2 separate regions of the Homo sapiens genome follow, and region 1 is linked to region 2. Evidence: fine-mapped QTL for protein levels in blood plasma. Region 2 holds a variant in brackets. A gene starts in the other region. All regions are shown on their reverse strands.

Region 1 (10,901 bases), not on the chromosome of region 2:
TATTTTAAGTGACGCCAGATACTTTTCTAAATACAGCATTTTTCACCTTATTTTGGTAGGTAGGTAGGTCTGAAGGCCATCATAGACATAATAGCCACTTTAAAATATTATGATCCATAGATTTCTGAAATCCTAGAGTCTAAGGTATTGATTCTGATTATACAGTGAGGCTGTAGAAGTCATGGAAAGCAGTTTATCATTAATTCTTAGAAACTTGCTAGGGGTGTGTTTCTTTTCATTTTAATAGGTTGATTGTCTAGACTTACACTGCCCAGTACAGTAGCTGCTAGTCACATGTGGCTATTTAAATGTAATTTTAAACTAAATATAATTAAAAATGTAATACCTCAGCCACATTTCATGTTCTAGTGGCCACCATATTGGGCAGCAGATACAGAACATTTCCATCATCACAGAAAGTTCTATCTGACACCGCTGTTCTAGATACTTAGGGAATTTGACTTTTATTTGTCTTTCCAGGAAGAGAGACATCATGCAGAATATTGTACAGATTTTGGAATCGGTACAGTTGAAATGGGAACTTTTTCAGAGCTGGACAGACTTTTCAAGGCTCCATCTTTCTAATAAACTGGCCATTTTTGGAATTGGTTATAACACCCGTTGGAAAGAGGATATCCGTTACCATTATGCTGAGATCAGCTCCCAGGTGCCCCTTGGCAAGCGACTTCGGGAGTACTTCAACTCTGAGAAGCCTGAAGGACGGATCATTATGACCCGAGTGCAGAAAATGAACTGGAAAAATGTTTACTACAAATTTTTAGAGATCACTATTAGCGAAGCTAGGTGCTTGGAGCTGCACATGGAAATTGACTGGATACCCATTGCCCACTCCAAACCAACTGGTGGGAATGTTGTTCAATATTTATTGCCTGGGGGTATTCCTAAAAGCCCAGGCCTTTATGCCATTGGCTATGAAGAATGTATTGAGAGGCCCCTCTCACCACACATGGAGCAAAGTTCCCTGGACCCAGGAAAAGAGGGCCGGGTTGACCTGGAAACCCTTTCAGCACAAGCCTCATTACAGGTGGAAATAGAACCCACCCGAATTATCTATTGCTACCTCGGGATTGCTGAGGTCAGGACTCTACAGCAGTGCTTATTTTTACATTTCCAAGCGAATACCAAAACCTTCAGCAAAGATTGGGTTGGTATTAACGGGTTTTTGTCTCAGAACTGTATTGTGGATCCCGGAGTTTCCCCCAAATCCATCTACATCAAATTTGTAGAAGTAGAGAGGGATTTTCTTTCCGCAGGCTCTTTAGTTGAGTGCCTGGAAAAAGCCATTGGATACCCCTTAAAATTTAACAACTGAATGTCATCCTTCATAAGGATTTGGGCTCTTAGCTCCTTCTTCTCTACTCACTTCCCATTACCCGGACCACCCCTCATCCAGATGCCGCCGTCAGACTCTTCATGGAAACCCTTTCTTCAATTGGGCCAGTACGACTTCTAAGGAATCATAGTAGACTTGGGCCAGAAAAAACAGACCTCACCTGAAAATGCTCATTTTGAGCAAGCAAGATATATAGCGAACTTGCATGGTGGGTCAGCTATTTCTTTTTTAAAAACAGAAAAACAATTTTTAAATGGATTTTAGAGCCCTAATATAAACAAATGTAGGTACATTCCATATTGGACAAAACTTATACTTTGAGTTTCATATGAAATTGAAAAATTGTATTTTTTTCACAATGTTTCATTTTTACACATCTCTATGTCTCTATATAAGTAATATTTACAACCCTGAATAAATAAGCAATAGATAATGGCAAGTTAAATCTTGATTCACAGTTAAAAAGACTTTTTCAATATCACCCTTAGCTACTATTGTATATAATTTAGATTTTCATTTTTTTCACCAGCCAAGTGTTTTGCTATTTCCAATCAGTATTGCTTGCAAAGACCTTTGTTTCTGTGATGTACCAACTTTACAGTTGTGTTGCCATTTAAACCTTTTTTTAAAAAAAAAAAATTAAAGTAATTCCTGGCCCCTTGGCGTACTAGTTGAGCTTTTTGTAGCAGAGTGTGGCTGCACTGGCAGTGGGGGCTGCGCTCTGACTTGACTGCTAAGAATGAAGAGAACAAACAGAGCAGGGTATCTTCACATCCTTTCATTCTCTATACCTCACTGACCAATGTCATTATTTACTGTCAGAGTACCAAAGGTCACTGAACATCTCATTTTGTAATTCTTTGAAAAATGACTAAAAATGACTAGGATAATCCTTTTGACCCTAAGTACATCAATTTGTAAGAGACTCATTCCTCATCTTTTACACTCAGTACTCAGGGGCAGCTCTCAAGGAGTACAACTGGAAAACTGATGTAATCTTGCTATCTCTCAAAAGGAAGGAAGATCCAGTAGAAATTTTTTTTTTTTTTTTTTTTTTAAGACAGGGTCTTGCTCTGTCACCCAGGCTGGAGTGCAGTAGTACAATCATAGCTCACTGCAGTCTCGAACTCCTGGGCTCAAGTAATCCTCCTGCCTCAAAGCTTCCTGAGCAGCTGAAACTACAGGCTCAAGTGCCACCACGCCAGCAATGTTTTTCACTTTTTTTTTTCTTTTTTTGGTAGAGACATGGATGGTGCTATGTTTCCACCGAGCTGGTCTCAAACTCTTGTCCTCAAGCAATCCTCCCACCTTGGCTTCCCAAAGTGCCGAGATTACAGGTGTGAGCCACTGGGGCCAGCCCAAAAGTATTCTTTTAGGAGAGGGAATTGAGAAGTATGAGTCCAGTAGGAAGGTAACTGTCATGTTTAGATCTTTCAGAGATTTCTAATGGGCCAACCACCACTCCACTTACAGGTTCGTACTCTTGGCTCAGAGTCGCTTACTAATAGAGTAGTCAAGGATCACTTTGGTCTCATGGCAGGAATTTGTTAGATTGGTTATTTATCTTTATGATTTCCCAGCATCTCAGGTGCTCTACTTTAAGTGAGCCGCAAATCCAGGTAAGAACTCTCGTTCTTCTCATTTTTCTGTACTACTGAAGATATAGTTACATATTAACAAAAAGTGTTCTTTTCCTGCAGCCTGAATGTCTCAAATCAGTGATTTTCTCATTCTGATGCCTGTTGGTTGATTGATGCTTATTTATTTTTGTAATAACTAGAGAGCTTATAATCAGTGAGATGGCTTTTATTTCTGTTATTTGAGTCTGGGGTTATGGAGTTGGGTACTAGTTCAGGGAGGATATAAATAAAATGAGAATGTTTTGAGTGTAGCACCTGTTCTCCCCAGGCAGCATCTATAGTCAGAGGCCTGAGGAAATCCTCTTGAGTTTGCTCTTCTTTGGAACTTAGAATTCTGATCCTAATGGCTGAGGCAGTCTTGACCATCTTTTAGCCATAATCCCATAGTATTCATTGCTAAATGCTGTAGGAAGAAGGATTATTACCAGGAATTCTTCATGGCATCTCTAAAACGTTGCCACTGACGAGTCCCAAAACTAACATTATGCTCCATGCATTTTTTTTCTGCATCTTCCCATTGTTATTAGTTGCTCAGCTGGAGCAGAACATTTGGGGAACATTTCGTGAGGATGTTTTAGACCTACCAAACATTACCGAGAATGGGACATTGCTAGACCCACTATGAGCAGCATGGAGAAGATAGCAAAGGCTGGATCCAATAGATGTTTTCATCATTTGCCTTGGGATGGGTGGGGGTAGAGGACAAAGATGAGCATTGGGAAATGGAGGTTTACCAAGAAAGTAGCTTGCTGATACTGGATCTCCAGTCTCTTTGGCCAGAACAGTCTAGAAAAGAAGATAGCAGGATGTCAGATAACTATGAGCACTGCCGAAAATAAGAAATGGAATATTTAGACCTTAATGAAGCCTTATAACTGATTCAAGGGGGACAGAGAAAGTATATTCAAATGTAAAGGTAAATATTAGGAATTACTTTCGGAATCTAACATGAGATGTGATTGGAAGAAACACTAATGACCTGCAAGTCTCTAACATATGAAACTATGAACTAGCTCTTGCACACGTTTATGTAAGCAGTTCCCAGGTCGCACATAGATCATCTGTGTCAGCATTCATGATTTACACCAGGGTGGAGAGCAGTCCACCCTAAAATGCATCTTGGTGAAAACTTTCACAAAGTAATGGAGCTGCTCTGCTAACTTCTACGACTTGACTGCCCTCAGGGTCAGAAGAAAGAAATAGCTGAAATAGGAGACAGGAGACAGTGAGGACAATTCTTTACGGTCAAAGAATCTTGAAGAGACTGCCCCTGTGTCACATGGAGACATTCACTGACTACAAATCATTGGTTGCAGCTTTACTTCCCATGTCACAAGTCATTTGGGATCTGAATTCTGAAGGAAAAGTTAGCTACAGGGAATGAATGTTGAGGCTACACCTTATGTAGCACTTGATCAGGATAAGCACAGCCTGTGTGATTAGATACTTGGTGTTTCTGGGTTAGAACCAAAAGACTTTGTACTTCCTCTCTTGGAAGGAGTTACTTATTTGGGGTGACTTGTCTGGAAACAAAGGAGGGGTGTTTACAAGAGATGGTTTGCAATGCAGACTAAAGCCAAGAAAAATTTGAGTGTGATGGAATAGGAAAACCAAACCAACAGCCCCCAACCCCACCACACAATCTGCTTGGCCAAGTCCAAGTTTGTAGCTCCCTACACAAGAGTGTGAGACTGGCAGGTATCTCTTCCTGTTGTCTGTGCCTCCACTGAGCTGCCAAGTACTAGATTCTAGGGTTTGCATGAGCAGTTTTGTGTTTGCATAGGCATTTCTCAAAGCCACTGCATGGCAGGTATTTGAAGAGGAGCCAGGCAGGTCACACTAGAAAGAAGCAGCTGAGAGGGCATATGGGGCACTGTATAGAAAAAGATCTTGTGTGAAGTGTGGGCCCAGGGACTACACTCTGTTAAAACAGCAAAACTATGTGCAGTAAATGGAATCCCGCAGGCCTGGCTGCTTTTCTTCCCAGACAGCTCTGCCCGCAGAGCGGGCAGCGTCAGGAATTCGTTGTTATGCTTTCTTCCCTCACTGACCTTTGCTGGGTGGTTGAGCTGTGCTGGGATGTTTGAAGCATTTTTTTTTTTTTTTTTTTTTTTTTTTTTTGGCTGTTGGACAGAAAAGCAAGAACAGGTGCGTGCCTTTCTGTAAGGGAGCGGCGGCCGCCAGAGGGCGCAGAGGTGCCTTTTGACCGAATGGCGCGGGAAGGGGGGCGTAAAATTCAATTCACAGCGACCAAGATCTAGTCTCGGGAATTAAAGGATCAGAGCGCGCCTGAGCCTTTCGCTGCGGGGATGGGAGGCACTGAAGATTTGGGGGATAAAGAAGAAACGGAGGGACTGTCCTGTCTTCCTTCCCGCAGCCGCCCCTCCTCCCCAGTCAGCATCAGGCCCGTACGCCGCTCATTTCAGGGGCTAAGCTGGGAGCAGCACGCACGTTGCCTCAGTTTCCTGCTCAGCTCCCGGGACTACCTTGTGCCAACCTTCCCTGCTCGGAGTATGAGGCACAGGCCGGGGTAATCCTCCAGCCTGGGCTGGGGTCTGCTGAACTCGCGGAGCGCTTTTTCCTGCCCGCGGGTGAAGATTCCCCGCTGGCGCGTCCCGGGGCGCCCTGGGCTCCCGCGCGACCTCTGCCGTCGCCCTCGCTGCCGCGCTCCGGTGGCCGCGCAGCCCCCGCCTCCAGGAAAGCCACAGATTCCCGCTGTGCCAGGGAGCCCGCGCGGCCGGCGCTCCGGCCTCTCCCTGCAGCTGGAAAACGCTGCTCCCCTCTTCCTCCTTCAGGAAGACCGCCCTGATTGGGCCGGGGATGCGGCACCCCCAAGTTTGGAGCCAGAGCCCAGGAGCGTTTACATGTCAGGTGTTACGGGTGGTTCTGACTTCGGATAGTCCCCAAATTTCCCACCCTTCCTGGTCACCCTTCCTATCCCACCCCGGCGGAAGGGAAGGTTACGGCTCAGGATAGTTCTGGAGCCTCCTCTTCCCCCTCTACTCGTACCTGGCTGGCTCGTGGGGCATCAGAGCTTACCTCACCCCTCCCTGCGTCCAGACCTGGAGGAGGCCGCAGGGTCCCGCCGTCCGCGCGCTGGGGGCGCCCCCGGGCGGCGGACCCCGCGCGCCCCGCCCGGGAGGACGGCGACCTCTCCGCCCCCTCGAATGCCCCGCCCCGCTGTCGCCGTCGGTCCCCACCCCGCCACCGGCACACAGGCGCGCAGACTTGGGCTGGAGCCGCCCTGGGTGTCAGCGGCTCGGCTCCCGCGCACGCTCCGGCCGTCGCGCAGCCTCGGCACCTGCAGGTCCGTGCGTCCCGCGGCTGGCGCCCCTGACTCCGTCCCGGCCAGGGAGGGCCATGATTTCCCTCCCGGGGCCCCTGGTGACCAACTTGCTGCGGTTTTTGTTCCTGGGGCTGAGTGCCCTCGGTGAGTGAAACCCGGACCTGGAGGGGACTTGGGATGCGGGATGGGGTGAGTTCGACCCTGAGGGAGAACTTTGGCCACTGCTGCGGAACTGGGTCCCACGACTCGCCCTCCTCCCCTGACCTCCTAATCCCACTCCAGGGCATCACTGGCTGGCGCTGACTTCTCGCTTTGTCGGGGACAGCCCCCAGTTTGGGTGTGGGGGCGGATGGCGGGGGGAGGTAAGGGCATCTCTCGGAAGACCTGGATACCTCTGGGGTGAGTTATCGGAACCATTCCTCACCCTGTCCACTCCCCACCCCCCACCCAGCAGAGCCGGATGAGCTGAGCCGCTAGATGAGACACTGGCTAAAGAGCTTAAGGACTTAACTCTAGCCCCCTCTCATCCCCGACCCCACATACAAGCTGATGAGGAAGATCCCCCGGGGAAATACCCCTGGTCCCCAGGCTTGACACACGCACTTCGTGTCAATTCCCCAGCGCAGATGCTCTCTCTTGCCCCCTCCTGCTTCCTGCCCTGGGAATCAAGGGAGGTGCCCCAAAAGGACGACCGTGAGGTCATTTGGGACACAGGAAATGGGGGAGGGGTTCAAACGCACAGAGAAACAGAATTGTGACCACCCCACCCCCCCAAGGCCCACCACCCTTATTGGTTTCCAGAGCCAAAGGGAAGAGGGGAAATTGGGAGGAGGGTGGCCAAGGGTCAGAGAGGAAGGGAACCTCCTTGGAGCAAGTGTTTGGGAAGTGTTGTAGGCCTCCAGGGGCGCTGGCTTCAGCTGAAGCTGGGGTGGCTCAGAACTCCATCTGGGAGAGGACCCGGCAGGACTAGGCCCTTTTAAACTATTTCACTTGCTGTCCCTCAGCTTTCTTGCCATCTCCCTTCAAGGATCTCGAATGGGAGTGAAGGGTGGGTTTAGCTATATTGACTTTAACTCATTTCTCAGGTTGGAGGATGTCAGGACAAGTAAGGCCTGGGAAGCTGTAGAGTGAAATTCTACAATGATGGGGACAGAGATGAGGATCACCAGTGTCCCCTTTAGCATGTTCTGTGCCCCACAGGTGTCGGGGCATGCAATATTATAGTCCTTGGACAAAATGAGTCTCAAGTACAGCCCCCCAGGCCACACCAAGGCCACAAGTAGCCTTCTGTCCCTCTGGGCTTGGTGGGCCTGCTCCAGGATCCCTCAGACTTCTCATCCCGCCTTTCCCAACTTCAACTTCAGCTCTGTTCCTTCTGCATTCCACCCCAACTCTATCCCCCTTCCTTGTGGGGGGTGGGGGCTGGGGGAATCTCTGAAGCCAGGGAGGACAGTTCAAGTTGACTGCCTGAGTGTCCCAGGCTTCACCTGCTGCTCATCTGCAACCCTTTGTCCTACCCCAGCTTTGAGCCTCAGTTTGTCAGACTGAAGACCTGGACTCAAAAGTTCCAATCGGTCCCCCTGGGGGGTTGCCCAGTTCCCGCCAGCCACTCGAGGGTTAAATGGCACTGGTGACCCCGGTGCAACGTGCAGGCGCCCGGCTCCGCTCTTCTGGGCTCTGGAGGAGGCTCTCCGGCTCAGTAGGCTCCTCGGCGGCTCAGTGCTGCTGCCCCTGGGGCGTGAGAAGCCCGCGGGGGGAGTTTCTCAGAGAAAGAGGGAGACTAAAAATAGCCCCGGGGAGCGGGCCCATTTCGCTCTCCTTCGGCCCCTGCCGGCTCCCTCACTCTGGCCTCGGAGAGGGCTGTGGGCCGGAAGGGTCCCTTTCTTGGGCTGTCCCAGTGTCCTTCGATCAGACCCAACCAGACTCCTTTTCTCTCCCAGTGGCTCCGTGGACCCTGGGACCGAAAAAAACGGACCAGTTGGTGACTTCCGAGCCAGCAGACACCCAGGAGGGAGAGCAGAAAAGCCTCAGGCCCTCTTCTGTTCCTAGTTTCTGACAGGGCGAAGGGCAAGGAGCATGTGCCCAGACCCCAGTGTGTCCGTTACTATCTCTTTTAACTCTCCTCTACCTTCTGGAAAGTGGAATTATAAATGTGGGACCTGGGGAGGTCGCTGGTGGTCCACAAGGTGAAGGAAGGGCGCGCCCCTTCTGGGCCCCAGGCAGTTTCCCGGCGGAAACCCTTTCTGGCCGCCGGGTGTGTGTCGTAGAAAGGCTGGGGGAGAGCCGGCAGCACCTGCAGGCTCCAGGCGTGCCCGGCCTCAGCGGAATGGCCAGCGGGCCGGGTCCCCAGGGGGCGTCCAGCTCCTTGAGGCGGGGATTGTTTCCTCCCGTAGAGCCTCCGGTCTAGTGGCCCCCCCTTCATTGTCTTCTGCCTTATCACTGGGTACAAATTTCCTGCCCAGACCACAGAGATCCTCCAGGAAATGGGAAGGGGGATGCTGCGAAGGCCAAGTAACAGAGGTGGGGGTTCTGTACGGCGCAGCCGGGAAGCGGTGGGGGAGGCTTGCATCCTGGCCGGATCGGCTCCCAGCCCTTAGAGGCCTTCAGCCTGGCTCTCCTAGGGCGAGGGTGGAGAGCGGGGCCTGGCTGCGGCCTCTTCCCGCGGCGTTGGCCGCCTGCTCGCCACGCGGAGGTGGCGTCTTCCGCTCCGAGGCAGAGGGCCGAGGCCTGGAGGGAGTAGGGCCCGGGACTGGAGCGGCGATCATCCTCAGGCCTGGCCGTGTGCAAGCCCAAGGTTATTCCCCAAAGGGCTTACCAGTTGGCTGCTCTGTTGCCTCCCCGAAGGGCAAAGGATGAGTATTTCTGGACGCCGTGGTGCAAACGATGGCCCCCTCCTTGAAACCAACACCCCGGTCCACCCCCTGAGCGCCGGACACACTCAGGGGAGGCTTCATACTTGTCTAGAGACCGTCGTTCGCGCTGCCCTTAATTCCTTGCCACCCGAGAGTTCTCTGCCCAGATCGCCCGAACCCCAGAAGGGCTCCGAGGAGCTTTCTGGGTTTCAACCCTCCGTTTTCCGAGGGAAGCCCGCCTCTGAGATTGCGCGGGAGGGCGGGGAGCATCGCATTCACTGGGTCAGGCTTGGGCGCTGGGCTGCTCTGCTCTCTCCAGCTCCTGGCAAGCTCAGAAGGAGCCGCAGGGTTAATAGGTAACCAGACGGCCTCCCAAACCCCTCCGCCCTTTGAGAACTCGGGAGTGAGGGACCCTGGCGGCCCGGAGCAGCATCCCTACTCTCCCTCAGGAAAACTAGGGAAGCAAGTGGGCTACGTGGCGCGTACGACAGAAACAGTCGGTCCACCCTTTCTTCTCATATCTTCCCCTCCTCGCTGGAAATCTGCCCCCTCTCTTTGATGCTCAGAAATCTGCGCCTCTGGATACGAATAAATGCATATAAATGTGTCCCCATCCCCGCTACAACTGCAGAGGCTGGCGGTGGAGAGAAGTCGTGATGAAATGGGAAGCAGGACACTGAGCCAGTGGTCCCTGGGCACCCCTTGAGGCCTCCAGGGGCCGGACCCCGCAAGGTTCCTCTTTCCAGTTAAAGCGACTTTCCTCGCTCTCTGGTGAAGCCGCGTAGGGCAGGGTCCGCGGGCGGAGCTGGGAGCCGGTCCTGGGCACTCACGCCTCGCTCTTGTCTCCAGCGCCCCCCTCGCGGGCCCAGCTGCAACTGCACTTGCCCGCCAACCGGTTGCAGGCGGTGGAGGGAGGGGAAGTGGTGCTTCCAGCGTGGTACACCTTGCACGGGGAGGTGTCTTCATCCCAGCCATGGGAGGTGCCCTTTGTGATGTGGTTCTTCAAACAGAAAGAAAAGGAGGATCAGGTGAGGGAAGAACGCCTGTCAGCCAGCGGCAAGTTGCGCCCAGAGGGGGTTGTAAGCAAAGAGCTGGTAGCGGTGGGAGGGGTGGAGAGGGAATGGGGGCCGGGGAAGGAGTTTCAGGGAAAAGCAGAAGTCTTCACCAGTTCAGTTTTTGTTCTGATATTGGAGACTTCCCAAACAATTATCTTTTGCCGGCTTTCCCTAAAAATCCAGCACACAAAATACTGTAAAAGTGTGAGAGGCATTTTACTTGGTTATGAGGGAGGAGAGGAGGAGGGGAAGAATGGAAGTTGAGGACTGGGAAACGCTTAGGGGAAGTAACACACACGACTTATAAAAGTTAGCATATTTCTGGCCTGACTCAGTGACTCATACCTGTAATCCCAGCACTTTGGGAGGCCGAGGTGGGCACATCACTTGAGGCCAAGAGTTCGAGAGCAGCCTGGCCAATATGGTGAAACCCCCGTCTCTGCTAAAAACACAAAAATTAGTCGGACATGGTGGCACCCGCCTGTAATCCCAGCTACTTGGGAGGCTGAGGCAAGAGAATTGCTTGAATCCACAAGGTGGAGGTTGCAGTGAGCCAAAATCCAGCCACTGCACTTCAGCCTGGGCGACGGAGTAAGACTCTGTCTCAAAAAAAAAAAAAAAAAAAAAAGTTAGCATATTTCTGTTTTCACATTCTCTGCTTTGAATACTGTCAAGTCACAGGCCACTTCTCTTCCCAAATGATTCTCATCTGTC
Region 2 (10,901 bases):
CGAACTGACTCTATTTTGGTTTCAATCTTTAAGTTGTCCTTGTTCCTTCTTGGGCATAGGTTGAACTAACTTTGGGAGGAAATTAGTTTATAGTTTACAGTTTAAAACAAAGACAATAATAGCCCTTTCCCAAAAGAAACTTCTTTCTTGTTTGGGGACTAGACTGTGTTTGTAGGACTAACAAATTAGCCACAAGATTAGAAATTCTGGTTTAGGAGTCGTGTAGTTGGAGGCTACAAGATTCTGACCCTCCCTAAATTGTTCTTAAGATCAGTGCTTGAGATATTTTGCAGACCCTGTACCTTATGGATCAGTTGGTACCACCCAGATCGATAAAATTGCTTCATCTGATCTTGTGGCGCCCACCCAGGAACAGTCAGTTCAAGAGGACAGCTTCATCGTCCCATGATTTTATCTCTTGCCTAACCAATCAGCACTCCTGGCTCACTGGCTTCCCCTGACTCACCAAGTTGTCCTTAAAAACTCTGATCCTCAAATGCTCCAGGAGACTAATTTGATCAATAACAAAACTCCAGTCTCCCACACAGCCAGCTCTGTGTAAATTACTCTTTCTCTATTACAATTCCCCTGTCTTGATAAATCCACTCTGTCTAGGCAGTGGGCAAAGTGAACCCACTGGGTGGTTACAAATTTCGAGGCTCATCAGGATTGCCCTTGCAGCTACCTGCCCGTGGTTTGGTAGCCCCTCTCTAGCGATGGATCCAGAGGCTAGCCCAAGCATCTGCCTAGTTCTCTTGGACTAGGGGCTGACTTTGGTACTCTCTACTGGCGGGGTGCTGCCAACCCAATGTGCATGGATTTAATTGCAATGGAGAAATAGTCCTGGGGCGATATCCCTTAACTGTAGCACTATCACAGGGTGTCTGTCTGTAGCTCCATGGTGGGGTGTCTGTCTGCATCCCATTGTGGGGGTCTGGGTTGATGAGCATTCTAGGTACCGCCAATGACCCCTTCCTTCTCCCGACTGGTTCTGTAGCCCCCTGGTGGGGTGTCTGTTTGTCTGTAGCCCCATTGCGGGGTGTCTGTCTCAGTTTGGCTCCTAGGGGGTCTCTGTTGGCTCTCCCTAACTAGTAGGAAGAATCTTGGTTGGGGAGACTTCTTCTCAGTCCAGAAGATTTTGGGGAGATTTCTCAGACAGAGAATAGGAAGATAGTTTGGGAGGGATACTCTTGAGTTCTTTGTTGGGGATCTGATTTGGAAGGCCTTCTGTCTGTCGTGTCTTTGTGTGTGTTTGTATATGTGGAGGGGATCTCAGAAGAAATTGCTGATGGAAGTCCAGCAGGCCTAACTTGGAGAATCCTCCTTATTTGTCTGGTCACATTTGGTGAGCCCTGAAGAAAGCTCGATAGGCCTTTCTCGGGGTGACTATTGGCTCTTTGCCTTGCCCAGAGACCCCACTGTGAATTATCATTTGGAGGTCATCCCTCCCCAGCTGGAATGGATCAAAGACAACAGGGACCGTCTGGAGAAAGTTTGAGCTTTGCTAGGTTGATATTGGGTGCTGAATGGGGTGACTAGTGTCTGTTTTGTTTTGTGTATTTTGCTGGGATGGAAAATGTTCATTCAGTTCCCCAATGCAGCCCATTGGGCAACATCTTGCAAATTGATTATCTTTTGCCTATGGTTCCATAAAACAGAAAAGGGTGATTTTCTTTTGTAAAGTGGCTTGAATCCCACAGCTATGGCACAGCGAGCAGGGTCATCAGAAGGTGCTCCATTCTTCTGGAAGCTGCAGAGAAAGGGAACCCATAAATCTGGTATGCCAAAAAAGGATAAGAAATTCTTACCAGCCAAGTTTCTGGTCTCTCTTTCTCTGTCTGCATAAATGGTAAATGTCACTATATTTGTCTCCTCTGCAAGAGTTTGATTAATAGAAAAATGGATTTGTGAGACTGGTCTTAGGCTGTAGCAAATCTGGTGTACTTTGTACTAAAAGTTTGTCTTTCTATATTCTGTAATGGAGAAAGGAGTATCACAGGATACAATGTGGGTTTAGGATCCCTATAAGCCCATTTTTCAAGCCAACCCAGCAGACTGGTCAATTACAAACTATGCTACGGGTCCCTGAAAACAATACTCGGTAAGATCGGTCTTGTTTTGTGTCCTTAAGAGCTTAACCTTGTGGGGATACTTTATCTTGGTTTCTGCCATCCAGAGGACAGGAATTTTGAGGTTCATGTCACAGCCCTAAGAATTATCTTGAGCAGTTAAAAGCCTTCTCAAACTCAAAATTGGCCTCTCTAGGCTCCTTTTGGGAAAAGCAATAGAAACTGCTCAATGCTGTATAGTTCAGTAACTAAGGGTTTATCTTTTGACAGTGGTGGCCTGGGTTCAATTCTTGGCTTCTGGAATGATTCCTTTCTGGTTTGTTATGTGTGTAACTTTGCCATTTGAGGTTTTTATGGATAGCTTCTGATTTCTTCTCTTGAATTTTTCTTTCTCTGAACTACCTTAGGGAGATTCTAAATCTAGTAAAAAAGAAACTGCTTACCATGCCTTTGAAGCACCTGGGAGGTTGGTTACTTTTGGTAAAGTTCAAAAGCCAGAAATATTGACTGCATGGATAAAGTCAGGTAATCAGAGATGTGAAAGGATTTTTTTAAAGACCACTATGGTTAAAAGTCAACTTAATTAAAAGTGCATAAGCAAGCTGTAGGTATATTTAAAAGGTCTTTATGCTTTTCTTTTCATGGATCTTGTTTTGCTGGAAAAAGGTTTTTTTTTTCTTTTAGTCGACTGAATTATTTTTCTCCATTTTGTCTTACCACTATTAATGCACACATGAGAGGCCCTAAGATAACTTCTGGTAGCCTGAGATTCCTTGGGAAAAACAGAGGAGGTGCTATAGACCCCATTTTGGGAAAAAACCCTGTTTTCCTCATGAAACCCCAGGAATTAAAAGCAGATAGGTCCCCCTCAAAATCTAAGTCTGTTCTGTTTTGCATTGTGCTATCTAACGGTTTTGAGTCTTGGGGGTATCAAAAATTACTTTGAATTATAGGAGGGCTTGATATATAATAACTAGGTAAAAAATATACTTTAAGAATTGGCTAATGTCAGTTATGAAGACATACTTAGCTCTTTGCAAGCTTGGATCAGAGAAACATGCTCTTGGCCACCTGGAAGATACGGAAACATCCCCAACCCCCACTGAGAGATGAGACTCCCATGGGGGATTGGCTGGTTACAAAATGGGCTGATTGGCTTTGGTTTTCCTTGCGATGACATGTGTGGTGGAAGCACTGCACTGTCTTCTCCTGTAGTATTTCTTTCCTTTTTAGGGATCCAGGATACATATAGAATGGCACCCTAATTTGGGGGATCTGTCTCTCCTTTCCAGCTGTGCCTCCTTATTAGGCCCCAGAAACTGCATGGTTTCCTGGCCCTGTTCCTCCACCCTGAAGCCAGTAATCCAATTAAGAAACTGGTAAATAAAAAATCTTACAAGTGCTGAATCTTCTATCTGTCTGTATTCATATGTGTTGTGTGTGTAATATTTACACAAAAAGAACTCTGTTTAATTGGCTTAAAAATAGATGCCGAAATCAAATATTTTGTCAGAAAAAGAGAAACTTTAATGCCTTTTGTACACGTGACTTTAATAATCTTTTGGAAATAAAGACAGTTTTAGAAATTATTGATAAAAACAAAAATGTCTTCAAAATGTAGACATTTGGTCTAAATTAACGTCAGATATCAGATTTACTAAATGTTTTAAGGTTGTAAGCTGTTTCTTTGACTTTTGAAAATTGTTTAATTTGCCTACTTTGGAAAGAGTTAGGCCTTATCTTCACTTCTGTCTGATGTCCTAGACTCCACACCTAGTACATAATTAAAATCACTTATCAGGTTTTCACCAAAAATAAAAGCTGCTAAGAGGTAACATTGTAACATGTAATTGAGACCACTGGAGAAACAGTTCTACATGTAAGGTGTGTAAGGAAAGTAAAAGATTATAGGAAGGCATGGGAATATGGCTTTTATTAAAGGGAATGTTGCCAGACGCGGTGGCTCACGCTTGTAATCCCAGCACTTTGGGAGGCTGAGGCAGGTGGATCACAAGGTCAAGAGATCGAGACCATCCTGGCCAAATGGTGAAACCCTGTCTCTACTAAAAATACAAAAATTAGCTGGATGCGATGGCACATGCCTGTAGTCCCAGCTACTCAGGAGGCTAAGGCAGGAGAATTGCTTGAATCTGGGATATGGAAGTTGCAGTGAGCCAAGATTGCACCACTGCACTCCAGCCTGGTGACAGAGCAAGACTCCATATCAAAAACAAAACAAAACAAAAAAGGAATATAATTTTGTCTAGTTCAGAGGGTTTAAAGATTATCTTAACCTAAAAGAGTAATGGGACAAAACTGGAGGTTTAAACAAAGTGAAAAGGGCTTATGAAGGGTTGGTCTTGTAAAAAAAAGTTCTGTGGGTATGAGCAAGTTGGCTAATATTGGAAGGGGATTATTTAATTTTTTTTTCTGTAGGTTGAACATTAAAATAAAAGCACACGAATACAGGGCCAGAATCTGAGCCCAGGTGTCCAAATAACAGGGTTTTCTTAGAAAACTGATCGACTGTTTAATGAAAAATTATAAAGTGTTCAAAAAAGTTTATGAAAATCTTACCTTATGGTCAGACTAATTAAGACTGAATACATTTGTAAATTTTTATTGTAAAACCAGCCTTAGCATTAAAAATGCACTAATACAAACATTAAATTTGGTTTTCTCTTTTGAAAAAGATTTTTATGTAAAAGATTTTTTACATAAAAGATTATGTAAAAGATTTTTTATAGTAAAAGAAAATGAAAGGGTTTTGTTTGCCCCTTTGGGTAAACTACAGGGAAAAAGGGGAGGAGAGAGAAGATACGATTCAGTTGGCCTCATGCTATCTTCATTGGGTCTTCTTGTTTGGAAAGCTATGTCTCCTCTATCAGAGTAAAGGGTTTTTCTTTTTAAAATTTTGGAGTTATCATTTTGGTCAAATGAATGACTTATGGTGACCTGGGATTCTATTTTGTGATATCCACAAAATAAATCTTTGATATTTGACAAACTTTCCAAAATCAAATTATAAATTATAATTTGATTATAATTATGTCTCTTTCTAACCTAATCTTTTAGATATTAGGTCCTCTAATGTCCAAAAATGACATCTGGCTTACGTGGTATAAAAATCATACAGGAAGCATTGTCAAATATAAAATGTTGTTTGGCTTTCTTTGGGCTGTATTTGTATAAATATGTTATTAGTATGTGTTCCAAAATTATGAGAAACTCCTATAATTCTGATATGATTGAATGTATGCTGTTAATATAATAGTTATAATTTGTATGTAAAATTGTTGTATGCCACAGAAGTAACCAAATTCCTAGTCAACTGTGGCTTTAATAATGGCCGTCCTAAGATTTGTTGTCATCCACAGACAATTGTTGTCATCCACAGACAATTGTTGTCTTGTTTGATGCTCTTCAAAAGGTGGTTTATAATCAGCTCTAGAACTTTGACAGGTGCTCTTGAATTCAGGTTTCCAATAACTTTGGAGAATGTGACATTAGAATAGAGGAAATAACTTCCAGGACTCTCATGGGGAGCTGAAATGTTCATAAATATCAAACAGAACAGGAGTTAATGGAATTGATTGAACTAATAGAAAACTGAAGTAATCTTTTTTTTTTTTTCTTTTGAAATGGAGTTTCGCTCTTGTCTCCCAGGCTGGACTGTTGTGACATCATCTCGGCTCACTGCAACCTCTGCCTCTCGGGTTGAAGTGATTCTCCTGCCTCGGCCTCCCAAGTAGCTGGGATTACAGGTACTCACCACCATGCCCATCTAATGTTTGTATTTTTAGTAGAGATGGGGTTTCACCATGTTGGCCAGGCTGGTCTCGAACTCCTGGCCTAAGGTGATCCACCCACTTTGGCCTCCCAAAGTACTGGGATTACAGGTGTGAGCCATTGAGCCTAGCCCAGTAATCTTTTGTATTAACTTTTTTGCTTAAAACATTGCTGATCCTTTTTGTTTTCCAGAGCCAAGAAAACTTTTCTTTTAAGCTACTTACAGCTTTTAACAGTTGAATAAAATATACTCCTGTGAAAAAATTTGGAGTATATTTGTTTCTCCCTACCTGATTTTTCCAGAATTTGGAAACTATTTGTGAATATTCTCAACATATGGCAGTATAGTTATTTGCATAAGTACAATGATAATCTGTTTTCTTTTGTAACAGGACACAATGGGAGAAACTGGTTATTTTATCAAGGCTTTGACTAGAATGGCATGCTTTTTTTAAAGAATCAAAGTTGGCTGGGCGAGGTGGCTCATGCCTGTAATCCCAGCACTTTGGGAGGCTGAGGCAGGCGGATCACCTGAGGTCAGGAGTTTGAGGCCAGCCTGGCTAACATGGTGA[G/A]ACCCCATCTCTACTAAAAAGAAAAAAAATTCCAAAAATTAGCTGGGCATGGTGACAGGCGCCTGTAATCCCAGCAACTCTGGAGGCTGAGGCAGGAGAATCACTTGAACCCGGGAGATAGAGGTCACAGTGAGCTGAGATCGTGCCATTGCACTCTAGCCTGGGGAACAAGAGTGAAACTCTGTCTCAGAAAAAAAAAAAAGGAGAATCAAAGTTGAGTTATTGAGCTAATAAAAGCCCCTTGGGAAATCTGGCCTTATACCTTGTCTACACAGTCCCTGTTCAAAGTTCCTGACCTGTGGTAAGTAAAGAATGTCACTTTCTAACAGTCTCAGGAGACCCAAGTTTTCTTGGGACCTCAGGAGGAGAGAAATTTACCCAACTCATAGGTATTTGAGTGTACAAACCCATGGCTGGGCTTAGCTTTAAAAAAGTCTTATTTGAGATTCCTTACAGAACAGAGTTCCATCAAAGCCAATTTTAAAGGCCTATGTGAAAAATAGTTATTCTTGGTGTGCTTTGTGCAAATAATCAGGCCAAGTATAATAAGACTAAAGTTTATTTTGTAAACAAATCATTCTATCATGATTTGTTTTTAATAAAAATGGAGACTGAAGAGAGAAAAATTATGCTTCAAAAGAAAAGCTATAGTATACCTGTTGTTCGCTGTTCTTGAGTTTTTCGGCAGTTTGGACAAAATCCTAAATTTTTGTGGGCTACAAGTCTCCAAACTAATGCTTTCAAATCTTTACTTTTAAAACTGGGAATTACACTCCTTACTAGCTCCCTTTTGCCTTCCGCCTTGAGTGGAAGCAGTCTGAGGCCTAACCAGAAGCCCTGCAGATGGGGGTGCCATGCTTCTCGTACAGCTTGCAGAACTGTGAACCAAACATCTTTTGTTTATAAATTACTAAGTCTCAAGCATTCTGTGAAGGCAACACAATAGACTGGGACAGTATCAGAACTGGTCCTAGTGAGGTCCTTGTGAGACCTCTATAGCATGTGCTTCCTTTTAAGTTAGATTTAGTCTGCCATGACTGTGAGAATATCTGAACTACATTGATGAGCTTGGAATTACAATATTATATAAATTGCATTGTCTTGAAAACTAATGGTATTTCCTGAAATGACTCATCCCTGAACTCGATGGAGAGCTTTATTTTTTTCTTGCCACACTCTGTAACTTTGCAGTATAAGAAGTTAACCTAGGCTTGGCTAGTCGCCCACCCCTGTAATCCCAGCACTTTGGGAAGCTGAGGTGGGAAGACTGCTTGAGCCCAGGAGTTCAAGAGCAGCCTGGGCAACATGGTGAAACCCCATCCCTACAAAAGAATGTAAAAGTCATCCAGGCATGGTGGTGCACGCCTGTGGTCCCAGCTACTGCAGAGGCTGATATGGGAGGATCACTTGAACCCAGGCAATTGAGACTGCAGTGAGCCAAGATCATGCCACTGCACTCCATCTTGGGTGACAGGTTGAGACCCTGTCTCAAAAAAAAAGAAAAGAAGAAGAAGAAGAAAGAAGAAGTAGTTACCTATGCTCGTAATCACATAGGGCACTAGGGCAGGTGCCCAGGCACTGCAGGGTAAGGCCTAACGGAATTATGGCTCCGGGCTGGGTGCGGTGGCTCACGCCTGTAATCCCAGCACTTTGGGAGGCCAAGGTGGGTGGATCACCTGAGGTCAGGCATTTGAGACCAGCCTGGCCAACATGGTGAAACCCCGTCTCTACTAAAAATACAAAAAATTAGCTGGGTGTGGTGGTGCACACCTGTAATCCCAGCTACTACAGAGGCTGAGGCAGGAGAATTGCTTGAACCTGGGAGGCAGAGGTTGCAGTGAGCCAAGATTGCACCACTTCACTCCAGTCTGGGTGACAGAGTGAGAATCTGTCTCCAAAAAAAAAAAAGGAATTATGGCTCCAGGAGGATAAGTGTAACCCACCTTCCCTGTAAGGACAAAGGAAAGAGGGGCATTTGGCTGGAGCTATTATGAGCCCATCACTGGCCAGTGCCCAATTCTGGTACTTGCCACAACAAGGTGATCTGGGGACCAGGTAACCATCCCTGGGTAACCCTGGTGTCCTCTCTGAAGGCTGCTGGGGAAGGAGCATGAAGCCTGCTGCTACCTGGTCCTGCTCCTTGCTGTGTCCCAGATTCCACAGGGAAGGAGAAGGGGAATAGCTCTTAGGTCCCTATGGCAGGCTGGGATTTATGACTTATTAGACTTCACCTTACTTAGTGACACTGTTTAGGACTTTCGGACCACATCACTGATCTGGGAGAAGGAATGGCCAGCATTGCTATCCCCATTTTGCAGATGAGGAAATTGAAAGACTGAGGTGATATTCCTGGCCACAGGCCACATCATTCGACGGGGCAGGGCTGAGACACAGGCTCCCAGCCAGCACTGTCCTCTGCTCCCTGGCGATTTACAGGCATTTACAGGTGCCAGGCTCACTGCCCAGAGGTGTCAATATAAACATGATCCTTATCTGGGCTCCACACAACTCTCCTATCTGGCCTCCTCCTCTACCCCCTGAGCCTTTCTTTTTCTTTTTTCCTTTCTTTCTTTCTTTTATTTTTTTTTTGAGACGGATTCTGACTCTGTCGCCCAGGCTGGAGTGCAGTGGCGTGATCTCGGCTCACTGCAAGCTCCGCCTCCCAGGCTCACGCCATTCTCCTGCCTCTGCCTCCCCAGTAGCTGGGACTACAGGCGCCCGCCACCAGGCCTGGCTAATTTTTTGTATTTTTAGGAGAGACGGGGCTTCACCATGTTAGCCAGGATGGCCTCGATCTCCTGACCTCGTGATCCGCCCGCCTCAGCCTCCCAGAGTGCTTGGATTATGGGCTGAGCCACCGTGCCTGGCCCCACTGAGGGGCGGTAAGCCCGAGAGACTGAGATTCAACCACTTGCCTACCAAGTTCTAGGCAGCATACAAGCCACATCTTCACTCTTGTGATAACATGACAGATGTTTCCACTTCAGCCTCTGAATGATCATGGGCCAAGTCTCCACTTCAGCCTCTGATTGGTAGCAGGCCAATCCTTCATAAGGTTTAGCCAGTTGGAGGAGGCCAGTTTTATCTCATGGCTGCTGAAACAACCTGCAGGGACACTAAGACCAGCTTCACCCACCACCATCACTCACCAGTCAGAGCTTCACCCGCCATCATCCACCAGAGCTTTACCTGCTGCTGTCACTCACCAGTCAGAGCTTTAACCACTGTCATGATTCACCTATCAGAGCTTCACCCACCACATCGCTCACCAATCAGAGCTTTACCTGCCATCGTCGCTCACCAATCAGAGCTTTACCCGCCATCATCACTTACCAGTCAGAGCTTCACCCACTGCTATCACTCACCAGTCAGAGCTTCACCCGCTGCCATCACTCAACAATCAGAGCTTCACCCCGCTGCCATCACTCACCAATCAGAGCTTCACCCACCGCCATCACTCACCAGTCAGAGCTTCACCTGCTGAAGGGGTGGCCAGCTGCTCCACAACCTGTGGGTGTTTCTCGTCAGGTGGGATGAGAGACTGAGAAAAGAAATAAGACACAGAGTCAAAGTATAGAGAAAGAAAAGTGGGCCCAGGGGATTGGTGCTCAGCATATGGAAGACCCGCACTGGCACTGGTCTCTGAGTTTCCTCAGTATTTATTGGTCACTATCTCTACCATCTCGGACAGGGTGATGTGGCAGGACTATAGAGTAATGGTGGGGAGAGGGTCAGCAGGAAAACATATGAGCAAAGATCTCTGTGTCGTAAATAGGTTTAAGGAAAGGTGCTGTGCCTGGATGTGCACGTAGGCCAGATTTATGCTTGACTTTACACAAACATCTGAGTGCATTAAGGAGCAGTATTGCCGCCAGCATGTCTCACCTCCAGCCATAGGGAGGTTTTCTGCTATCTCAGTATTTAGAGCGTATGATCGGGTTTTACACCAAGACATTCCATTCCCAGGGACGAGCAGGAGACAGATGCCTTCCTCTTATCTCAACTGCAAAGAGGCCTTCCTCTTTTACTAATCCTCCTCAGCACAGACCCTTTATGGGTGTCGGGCTGGGGGACGATCAGGTCTTTCCCTTCCCTCGAGGCCGTATCTCAGGCTGTCACATGGGGAGAAACCTTGGACAATACCTGGCTTTCCTAGGCAGAGGTCCCTGCGGCCTGGCCTTCTGCAATGTATTGTGTCTCTGGGTACTCGAGATTAGAGAATGGTGATGACTTTTACCAAGCACGCTGCCTTCAAGCACTTTTTTAACAAAGCACATCCTGCACAGCCCTAAATCCATTAAACCTTGAGTCAACACAGCACATGTCTCTGTGAGCACAGGGTTGGGGCTAGGGTTACAGATTAACAGCATCTCAAGGCAGAAGAATATCTCTTAGTACAGAACAAAATGGAGTCTCTTATGTCTACTTCTTTCTACATAGACACAGTAACCGTCTGATCGCTCTTTCTTTC

Alleles and levels. Positions count from the first base shown, and alleles are read on the strand shown. Strength reflects both the effect of a copy and how common the allele is.
As copies of G replace A in region 2, the plasma level of the protein whose gene starts at base 6,219 in region 1 goes up (strong association).

The links. PIP is the chance, under the fine-mapping model, that this variant and not a neighbour inherited with it causes the effect. Protein levels are from antibody-based Olink assays in UK Biobank. Linkage for the fine-mapping came from a reference panel and not from the study's own genotypes, which makes the PIPs less certain.
Region 1: it holds the start of ESAM, and the variant in region 2 is fine-mapped to the plasma level of the ESAM protein (UK Biobank, PIP above 0.99).

Annotation. Positions count from the first base shown.
Region 1 is chr11:124,757,608-124,768,508 of GRCh38, reverse strand. It overlaps ESAM (endothelial cell adhesion molecule), which reads left to right and starts at 6,219. Exons shown (of 7, transcript NM_138961.3): 1 at 6,219-6,424; 2 at 9,982-10,160. The coding sequence starts at 6,355. It overlaps MSANTD2 (Myb/SANT DNA binding domain containing 2), which reads left to right. Exons shown (of 4, transcript NM_001308027.2): 4 at 481-2,011. The coding sequence ends at 1,333. It overlaps ESAM-AS1 (ESAM antisense RNA 1), which reads right to left and starts at 9,375. Exons shown (of 2, transcript NR_120577.1): 1 at 9,096-9,375; 2 at 2,584-3,780. RefSeq lists silencers at 2,022-2,316, 5,431-5,480, 6,021-6,430 and enhancers at 6,161-6,664, 8,559-8,628, 10,122-10,281.
Region 2 is chr9:133,283,405-133,294,305 of GRCh38, reverse strand. No RefSeq gene overlaps it. Among named protein-coding and RNA genes, the nearest start is that of SURF6, 47 kb to the left of the region's middle. The variant G/A (reference allele first, on the strand shown) is at 6,431.